Linked DNA regions of Homo sapiens: region 2 is linked to region 1. Evidence: fine-mapped expression QTL. A gene starts in region 1. The other region holds a variant in brackets. All regions are shown on one strand. Distances are from middle to middle. Region 1 holds the start of WTAP (WT1 associated protein). Region 2 overlaps MRPL18 (mitochondrial ribosomal protein L18).

The links. PIP is the estimated chance that this variant, and not a neighbour inherited with it, causes the effect.
Region 2: its variant is the best candidate, but not a certain one, in a credible set for the expression of WTAP in whole blood (INTERVAL, PIP 0.51).

What each region holds. Positions count from the first base shown.
Region 1 is chr6:159,724,715-159,730,093 of GRCh38, forward strand. WTAP (WT1 associated protein) reads left to right here and starts at 2,792. Exons shown (of 8, transcript NM_001270531.2): 1 at 2,792-2,989. It also overlaps a transcript of SOD2 not described here. RefSeq lists enhancers at 2,003-2,600, 2,081-2,170, 2,521-2,650, 2,601-3,198 and a silencer at 2,661-3,210.
Region 2 is chr6:159,792,872-159,798,250 of GRCh38, forward strand. MRPL18 (mitochondrial ribosomal protein L18) reads left to right here. Exons shown (of 4, transcript NM_014161.5): 3 at 4,416-4,647; 4 at 5,181-5,379. The coding sequence ends at 5,252. Among named protein-coding and RNA genes, the nearest start is that of PNLDC1, 4.7 kb to the right of the region's middle. RefSeq lists an enhancer at 2,096-2,967. The variant C/CT (reference allele first, on the strand shown) is at 3,257.

The DNA.
Region 1 (5,379 bases):
GCTGGCACATGCCTGTGGTCCCAGCTACTCGGGAGGCTGAGATGGGAGGATTGCTTGAGCCCAGGAAGTCAAGGCTGTAGTGAGCCATGATCGTACCACTGCACTCCAGCCTGGACGACAGAGTCAGACCCTGTTCTCAAAAAAGAAAAAAAAAAAGAAAAGCAAGAGAAGGGAAGGAAGGGAGGGGGGAAGAGAGGGAGGGAGGGAAGAAGGGAGGGAAGAAGAGAGGGAGAGAAAGAAAAAAAGAAAAGAAAAAGAAAGGAAAGGGAAGGAAGGAAGAAAACAAAACAGAAGTACAGTGGGATGCAAAACACACCTACACAAAGAACCAACTTTCCCTATGCTCAGCTCCGGGACTTTAGTATGCAGATTTCTGTATATGCTCGCAGAAGGTCCTAAATCCAATCTCCTGCATATAAGGAAAGACTACACTATCACAACACAGATACACTACTAGAGTACTGTGTTCAAAAGCTCAGAGGGGCCAGTGGTGGTGGTTCATTCCTGTAATCCCAGCACTTTGGGAGGCCAACCTGCAGGCGGATCACCTGAGGTCAGGAGTTCCAGACCAGCCTGGCCAACATGGTGAAATCCCATCTCTATTAAAAATACAAAAATCAGCAGGGGATGGTGGCGCATGCCTGTAATCCCAGCTATTCAGGAGGCTGAGCTGAGAGAATCGCTTGAACCCAGGAGACAGAGGTTGCAGTGAGCTGAGATTGCACCACTGCACTCCAGCCTGGGCAACACAGTGAGACTGTCTCAAAAAAAAAAAAAAAAACCCAAAGAATAATTATTTTTTCTGTGTATCTTAGTTATATTAGTTAACAGTTAAGTTCATTTGTTTCAATTTGCTTTCAACCTTAGGATTTACTTTGTTTCCTTTTTTATTTACTTTTTTGGCTATGTAAAACTAAAAGTTCAAAGACAGAGAAATCTTGTCTCCACCCCCCACTCTTTATAGGCAACTAAAAATGTTAAGTTTCCAGGATATCCTTCCAATTCCTCCCCGAAAATAAGCATATACACATAAATATTCATATTAAATATAAATATATATTTTTATGTATTTAAGTAAATACATAAAAGCATATATGCTTATTTTTGCTTTTGAATACAGTGAATACTTACTACACTTAAATATTTAAGTGAATACTTAATACAACCTGAGACTCATTCCAAAGCAACACACGATTATTTCCTGAATCTTTTTAATGGTTGCATTGTGTTCTACTGTATGGATGCACCATTCCCAATCAGTTCCCTATTAACGGATATTTGGGTTATCCCTAACTTTTGCTATGACAAATAGCACTGCAATAACCTTGTATACCTATTGTTTCCATGTGTGGAGCTGCACCTTCAGAATAAGGTTAGGGTTAGAAGTATAACTGCAAGGTATAAGAATAAACACAAGTAATTTTGTACTCCGTGGAACTTGAACCATTTTTCCACTCCCACCAGGAAAGGTAATTTCAACGTGTATTTCCATTGTAAGTGAGGTGGAGCGACTTTCTATGTTTAAAGACCATTACGGTATTTTTTCTGAGAATCATCTGTTCATGTCCTTCCCCATTTTCTCCTTTGGCTTTTGCACTTTTTGTTTTCAATTTTTGAGAGCTCTTGTGATACGAGTTGCAAAGATTTTCTCCAGACCGATCTGATTCACTGGAAATATACTACGACCATCTGGAATGTACTTTAATCTTATCCTAATAAATCACCTTACTACAAGACACTCCTTTGGGGATGAACAGGTTTGATAAAGCCGGCTAAGGACAGACCAATCAAAAGAATTACGTGCTCTTCTAGTAAGTGTTTAGAGACTGTTTCACGTTCTCCAGGTAACACCGCCATTACTCGGCGGTCCAGATGGCAGTCTTACTTCAGGGAGTCTACTCCACTTGCAGGACCTCTTTGATTGAGTTCACTAAACCTCACAGGGCCGCCTTCCCCGTGTTCCAGTTAGCAAGGGGCCCTCAACGCCGCGGACACAGCGCAACCTCCGACGCCAGAGAACAATAGCTCCTCGATGCGTCTCCAGAGATGTCAAGGAGGAACGAACCCAGCGGCCAGGAGACTGCGCCTCACGACTGATGAGAGGGAAGGCATCGGTTTCTAAGTTCTCAAAACTTACAGGTGAGCTTCTGCTAAGAGTAAACGCCCGCGGCTCGCCGCCCACGGCCTCTCTCTTGAGGTGGCACCTGGTCCTCCGACACGCGGAAGCATCACGGATGAGCGTCACGAACACAGAGCGGCCAATCACGCGCCGCCTTCGCCCAGATCCCTCCGCACGAGGCAGCCCCGCAGCCGCAGGTGGCCCCGGCGAGTACTTCCACCTTCCCTTCCCGTGATGCCCTGGGGCTGACCTCCGACCTCGCTGGCCCGCCCCTCCCCTCGGCCGCTTCCCTTACTGAGCTTGCTGAGCTCCGGGGCCCGCGGAGCTCGCGCCAGGCTCCTGGGAAAGGACGGGGAGTGTTACCGGGGAGCAGCTGCTCCATTGTGCCTCGAGGCCCCGATCGGGCTAGGCCGACGGCCTCCCTCCCTTCACCTTTCCTCTCCTGGCGGGGTTCGGCGGCGGGCGAGTGACTGCGGCCACGCCTGAAAGGCGACTCTCCTGTGAGTGGGCCAGAAGGCGAACATGGCGGAGCGGGGAGGCTGGCGGGAGGCGGGAGGCGGGAGGCGGGAGGCAGTGGCGCTGGCCTGCGGCGCGTTCGGACCGGCTGTGGGGCGGGGCAGGGCGGAGCGGAGCCGTGCGGCGGGGCGGGGCCGGGCGGCGGGGCCTGGTTTCCTCCCTCAGCGCCATTTTGTGGCAGCGAGACCCACAAATAAAGGGGAGCGCAGGGGTTGCGGCGGGACTAGGAGCGCGGCGGGGCCGGCGGCAGAGCTGTCCGGCTGCGCGGTGGCCCGGGGGGCCCGGGCGGCAGGGCAAGCAGCGCGGCCTCGGCCTATGCGACCGGTGGCGCCGGCGCGGCTTCTGCCTGGAGAGGTAGGCGCGGGCCGGCTGGCGGGAGCGGACGCGGGGGACCTCCGGGGCCTGAGGGCTGATGCGCAGCCGCCCCCGGCGGGTAAGGGGCGGGCAGGGCCCGAAAGGCCACACGGGCCTGGTGCGGCACCGGTCTCTCGTGAGCCGCTCTACCTTCCCGCCTGCGGGGAACACTTCCGCCGCTTCGAGGCCATTTTATCTCTGTCCTCCGTCCCCAAGGCCCGGGTTGAGAGGGGTGCTCTGGCGGCCGGAGAGACCGGCCACTCACGGAGGCCGGAGGATGCCCTCCCCGGGCTGAGCGGCGGCGCTCGTTTTTTCCTCGCCTCGGGGTCGCCCCCTTCACCTCCCTTGGGCCTCTCCTGAGGACCTGGCGGCACTAACGAGTTCAGCAAGGAAAAAAAGAAACATTCGTTCCCTACATTTCATGTCACGCAGTAGGATGTTACTACGTTCTCTTGTAGACTTCCATTTTTAAATGAGTATAAGCATTCTGAGGAAAGAAACTGAATTATTGCAGATTTTTGTGAAATCCAAGTCTTACCTTGGATCCCTGTGAGACAGTTACTAGATTTTTTTTTCACCGTTTTTCATAAGTCTGTGTACACGTAATGGAAAAGCCCGAGTTCTTGTTTTGATAAGAAAGTCACTTGGTTGTTTGATCCCAAAGGATTAGCTTAACATTATCAAGGACTAGCATAACTGTGATTATGTAAAAAAAACAAAACAAAACAAAAAAACTATTATTTAGTCTGGTAGGGAAATACTTCTATGAGTATGTTACAATTGGAAGTTGTATTTGTGCCTATTTTATCTAGTTTTAGTTAATTCCATTGCTTCGGAAGATAAGTGGACGTCATAGATCCATCGCAAGTTCTCGTTTTTTGGATTTTAAAATTTTGACCATTAAGTTTTCTACGATAGATAAACATGTTGTGGACATTTAAAACCGTAATTTAAAACTATGAGCGAAAAATCTTTTCAAGATGGATACATTTTAATTCATTCAAGTAGCATCTGATTAGCCAAGTCGGGGAAAGATTGCAGTCCGCAAAGCTGGCTTGTGATAAGGTTGAGGTTACATTTTAAGGGTTTGGGTAGGTGTGTTTCTTACAGTGCTTTTATATGTTAAGGTATCTTAAGCAGACACATGGTTTAAAAGTTCAGTATTTTTAGTACTTTTTCATTGGCAGAATTTGGACAAGCTACCAGAATTGCTAACTCCTAAAGGATAAAAGTAATAATAATAGTGTGTCCCAGGCACTGCTTATTTTTACATGGCTCTTTTATGTCTAGCTTTTCCAATTCAACGTTGAGTCATGTTTGCTGAAAATATTTTTGTGTATTGTTTGTCAGAAATAAGCTGGTAGAGATGAAACACAATGTGTAAAAAGCCCTGTGATGTGGAGATGAGCATTGTCACAATTTGTACAGTACATTAAAGCGTTCAAGGTCTCTTATGGTCTTGTATGTAGTATTGAATCCCCTTGAATATATTGTTTAGCAGTTTTGATCATTATGTATTTGCTTCTTGCTCCTCAAAATTGTACGTTAGTTAGTAGGTCCTTCAGCAAAAGAAGACTGAAGATAGTATTTTGGTTTTATTCTTGTTTTTAATTTTTTTAGTTGTCTCCAACTTTTCTGCCTCTAAATATTTTGCTTCTTGTAGTTACTAAGCTTAACACAGAAAAACTTTTCAGTATCTCCACAATAGTAAACTTCATTGTGTATTGTGTATAACAAGATGTTCCATCTGACTAAAATATATTGCTGTAAATATTTTCTGCCTTTGAAGATGTAGTTAATAGAATTTAATCTTTTCTAAGTGCACATTGAAGTTGCCTTTTATGTTCATATTATGTTCATATTTTATTTGAAAAATCTATAGCATTTTTATTGTGCTGAAAGCATTAATATTTGCAGCACTTTGTGAGACAGGCAAAATTATCTTTTTGCTGACTTGGAAACTGCAAGAGTTAAAAGACTTGCTTGGAATCACACATGGCAGATAGAGGATAAGGAAAAGATGGCCTTTCAGTTCCTCATCAGTACCTTGCTACTACAGTGTCTGCAGATTGGTGTCTTACATTCAGCTATGATTTGTTCGCCAAGGTACCGTGTCTTCTTACTGAAGTTGTTTTGGCTGGCGCTTGCCTCCGTTCAGAGGGAACTGAGTTACCTAACTTTATGATGCTAAGAGCCAGGAAGGTACTGGGATCTGGGATGCTAGGCACCTAACCAGTCTAGACTGAACTCCATACTAAGCTGTTTTTCTGTGTTAAGGCATCAAGAGTAGATGGTGGTCCTGATTTTCTGAGATATATTATCTCTGAATTATCTACATAAATAACTGAAACTTTTATGTAATTTTAAAACTAGTCAATCATGTTACCACC
Region 2 (5,379 bases), 68 kb after region 1:
CAGCTGGCTGCAACCTCTGCCTCCCAGGCTCAAACGATTCTCCCATCTCAGCTTCCTGAGCATCTGGGACTGCAGGCACACACTACCATGGCCGGCTAATTTTTTTCTTTTTCTTTTTTTTTTTTTCTGGTATTTTTTGTAGAGATGGGGTTTTGCTGCTGCCCAGGCTGGTCTCGAGCTCTTGAGCTCGAGAGATCTGCCTGATTCAGCCTCCCAAGGTGCTGGGATTACAGACGTGAGCCACTGCACTCGGCCCCAACGCATTACTTTGATTTAATATTTGGATCATTAAAAATAACTAAAGATGTATTTCCTCATTTTTTCTCTGTCTGCCTTACTCGCAATATTAAAAGTAGAGAATTTCAGAATATTATAGTAGGAAATGACCTTTGACATAATGAATCGGGCCCTTCATTGAACAAATGGTTCAAGTGTCAGCAAACTACGGCCCGTGGGCCAAAGGTAGATTGTGAGCTAAAAACTTGTTTTTACTTTTTTTAAGTTAAAAAAAAAATCAAAAGAATATTTTGTGGCTTGGGAAAATTAAATGAAAATCAAATTTCGTTGCCCAGGTTCTTAGAACCTAGCTGTACCTACTCTCATTTGTTTACGCATCACCTGGCTGTTCTAGCACTACAATGGCTGAGTCGAACAGTTTCAACAGAAGCTATTGGACCTAGAAAGCCTAAAATATTTACTATCTGGCACTTTGTGGAAAAAGATTGTTGACTCCTGGTTTAACAGATTGTGATTTTTGGCCGGGCGCGGTGGCTCACGTTTGTAATCCCAGCACTTTGGGAGGTCGAGGCGGGCGGATCACGAGGTCAGGAGATCAAGACCATCCTGGCTAACACGGTGAAACCCCGTCTCTACTAAAAATACACAAAAAAATTAGCCAGGCGTGGTGGCAGGCACCTGTAGTCCCAGCTACTAGGGAGGCTGAGACAGGAGAGTGGCGTGAACCTGGGAGGCGGAGCTTGCAGTGAGCCGAGATCGCGCCACTGCACTCCAGCCTGGGCAACAGACTGAGACTCCGTCTCAAAAAAAAAAAAAGAGATTGTGATTTTTTACTAGAGCCACCAGGAAAACCAGGAGTAGACTCCATATTTCCAAATCTAATGCCTCTTCTATTTCACATTGAGAATCCTAGTGAGAATCTAATGATTTGGGTGTGTTTTCTTTAACTTAAACTTGACTTTTTAAAGGGTAACATATACGTATGTTATAAAATCCAAAGGGAGTACAGTTTCTTGTGTGTCCTTCTAAAGATTGTCTATGCATATAAGCAAAAACTGTTAAAAACAATAAATCTTAGCATACGATAAACACTTCCGCATCTTTCTTCACCACCACCCTCAACCACCCCAAGCACGCACTTAAAAATACATCTTGGAGATTCTTCATGGTAGTTAAGAGCATTGACTCTGGAGCCAGACACTGGGACTTAAACCATGGCTCCATTACTTACTAGTTTTAATCTTTTTCAAGTTACTTAACCTTTCTGTGTTAGTTTCTGCAGCTAAAAAAAAATATAGAAAAAATAATAGAATTGAGACATAAGCTTTATCTATAAACCGTTAAGACAGGCCTGGCATATACTAAGTGCTCAGTAAATGTTAACTATTATCTTCATCATTATAAAGCATTATTTCATTCATTTCAGTAACTGTATGGAATACTATTGCATGGATTTTACTTAACTCGCTCCTAGAGGGTGATTATCTTTTATGATTACAGTGTTGCATCGAATTGTCTTGTCCATGCATTTTGTTAGTGAGATTGAGCATATTTTTGTGAATTTGAGTCATTAATATTTTTCTTTTCTGTGAACAGTCTGTTTGGATAATGCTTTGCCTATTAAGTTATGAAGGGGTGGGTTGCCCCTCCTCACCTGTGGGTGTTTCTTGTTAGGTGGAACGAGAGACTTGGAAAAGAAAAAGACACAAAGTATAGAGAAAGAAATAAGGGGACCCAGGGAACCAGCGTTCAGCATATGGAGGATCCCGCCAGCCTCTGAGTTCCCTTAGTATTTATTGATCATTCGTGGGTGTTTCTCTGAGAGGGGGATGTGTCAGGGTCACAAGACAATAGTGGGGAGAGGATTAGCAGACAAACATGTGAACAAAGGTCTTTGCATCATAGACAAAGTAAAGAATCAAGTGCTGTGCTTTTAGATATGCATACACATAAACATCTCAATGCTTTACAAAGCAGTATTGCTGCCCGCATGTCCCACCTCCAGCCCTAAGGCGGTTTTTCCCTAACTCAGTAGATGGAACGTACAATCGGGTTTTATACCGAGACAGTGCATTGCCCAGGGACAGGCAGGAGACAGATGCTTTCCTCTTGTCTCAAGTGCAAGAGGCATGCCTTCCTCTTATACTAATCCTCCTCAGCACAGACCCTTTACGGGTGTCAGGCTGGGGGACGGTCAGGTCTTTCCCTTCCCACGAGGCCATATTTCAGTCTATCACATGGGGAGAAACCTTGGACAATACCTGGCTTTCCTAGGCAGAGGTCCCTGCGGCCTTCCGCAGTGTTTGTGTCCCTGGGTACTTGAGATTAGGGAGTGGTGATGACTCTTAACGAGCATGCTGCCTTCAAGCATCTGTTTAACAAAGCACATCTTGCACAACCCTTAATCCATTTAACCCTGAGTTTGACACAGCACGTATTTCAGAGAGCAGGGGGTTGGGGGTAAGGTCATAGATTAACAGAATCTCAAGGCAGAAGAATTTTTCTTAGTACAGAACAAAATGGAGTCTCCTATGTCTACTTCTTTCTACACAGACAGTAACAATCTGATCTCTTGCTTTTCCCCACAAGTTATTGATCATTTTCTTGTTAATTATAGGAGGCTTTTAACATATTGTGTAAATTAGCTCTTTGAACAATATATGAGTTTAAAATATTTTTTCTTTTTATATTTTTGTGACAGGGTTTCACTCTGTCACCCAGGCTGGAGTGCAGGGCATTATCACGGCTCACTGCAGCCACAACCTCCTGGGCTCAAACAATCTTCCCACCTCAGCCTCCCAAGTAGCTGGGACTACAGGTGCACACCATCACGCCTGGCTGATTTTTTCTATTTTTTGTAGAGACAGAGTGTCACTGTGTTGCCTGGGCTGGTCTTGAACTCCTTGGCTCTAGCAGTCCTCCTGCCTCAGCCTTCCAAAGTGCTGGGATTACAAGCTTGAGTCACATGCCCAGCCTAAAATATTTTTTGTTTCATTGCTTTTCTTTTGACTTCATTTTA[C/CT]TTTTTTTTTTTTTTTTTTTTTAACCATGCAGCAAATTTTGTCCATCATTTCTTTTTTATGCCATATGAGGGGCTGGGCATGGTGGCTCAGCCTGTAACCCCAGCACATTAGGAGGCTGAGGTGGGTAGACTGCTTGAGCTTAGGAGTTTGAGACGAGCCTGGGCAATATGGCAAACCCTGTCTCTACAAAAAAATACAAAAATTAGCTGGGTGCAGTGGCATGCGCCTGTAGTCCCAGCCACTTGGGAGGTTGAGGTGGAAGGATGACTTGATCCCAGGAGGCAGAGGCTGCTGTGAGCCAAGTTCGTGCCTCTGTACTCTAGCCTGAGAGACAGAGGCAGACCCTGTCTCAAAAAAAAAAAAAAATGGCCATATGAAGCTGGACACAGTGGCTCATGCCTGTAATCCCAGTGCTTTGGGAGGTTGAGAAGGGTGGGTCGCTTGAGGCCAGGAGTTTGACACCAGCCTTGGCAACATAGGGAGACCCTGTCTCTACAAAATAAAAATTATCTTGGTGCAGTGGCATGCACCTGTAATGCCAACTACTTGGGAGACTAAGGCAGGAGGGTTGCTTGAGCCTAGGGGTTTGAGGCTACAGTGAGCTGTGGTTGCACTGCTGTACTCCGAGCTGGGTGACAGTGAGACCCTGTTTCTGAAAAATAATAAAAGCCATATGACATGGTTTGATGTCATATTTAAATATGCATACCTTGAGATTATAAAAAAATTTCTCATGTTTTCTTCTAGTACTGTTATGATTTCAGTTTTTGCATTTAAATTTTTGTTCCGTCTTATATTTATTTTGGTGCTAGCTATAAATAAAAGCAAAGAGTAAGTATATCCATGTCATGCATATGTTCAGTAACTTAGCTCTGTCTCTTCAAATCTCTTTTTGAAGTAGATCTGTAAATAAAACTCAGCTCTTCAGAAACAAATTTCTTCATGATACTTGAACTATTTAGTTTGTTATTATTGAGGATATTCTCATAAAGGCGGAGGAAAAATACTTTTCCCAAGCAAAATCCAAGTTAAATATGTTGAAGTAAATGAACCAAACACTGGATTGTTGAAAAATATTTAGTCATTTATTCACCTCAATTAATGTAACTTTAGGATACAGATTCTTCTGTGATTTTATTATCTTCTCACCCCATTTAGGTTGCGAGTTATAAGGACTCAGCATCATGTAGAAGCACTTGTGGAGCATCAGAATGGCAAGGTTGTGGTTTCGGCCTCCACTCGTGAGTGGGCTATTAAAAAGCACCTTTATAGTACCAGAAATGTGGTGGCTTGTGAGAGTATAGGACGAGTGCTGGCACAGAGATGCTTAGAGGCGGGAATCAACTTCATGGTCTACCAACCAACCCCGTGGGAGGCAGCCTCAGACTCGGTATTTTTGTTTTCATGTACTTATTGAAAAGGTATTGTGTTAATTCTTGGCATTAGATAACTTACATAATAATAACAGTTTTTACTTACCAAATACTTTCCATGTGTCAGACCCTTTGGTGAGTACTCAACAGTGTTACTTCATTTAATCCTCACATCAGTCCATAGGGTAGGGACTAGTACTCTCATTCTATACAGAAATAAACTGAGGCTTACTTGCCCAGAGTCAGTGTATGGTGGATTTCAAACCCAGGGTGACTGATTCTGTAGTCCATGATGTCAGCCACTGTATTTCCTGTTCATATATTGACATCTTGTCCATATAATATTTTGAAATGCTGCTGAACCTTGACATCTCTACATTTCCTTTTTACTTACATCATTATTAAGATCACTTTCTGAAAAACCGTTGTAGGCTGGGAAGTTAGCAAGAACAAATCAATTTATTTCTGTCTTTTGGAAGGTGAAAGTATTTTCAGCCTACTCGTGCTGCTGACTTAATCTTTTCCTTTTTTTTCTGATTTTCAAAACCAGATGAAACGACTACAAAGTGCCATGACAGAAGGTGGTGTGGTTCTACGGGAACCTCAGAGAATCTATGAATAAATGGAAGCATTAATTGTTTTGAACATGTAAATATAAATCTGTCAGCCACTACAGCCATCAAAAGAGAGCATCTGGAAGAACAGCCAGCTTGGAAGTTTTACAGCAATAATGTTGCAGTGGAATATTA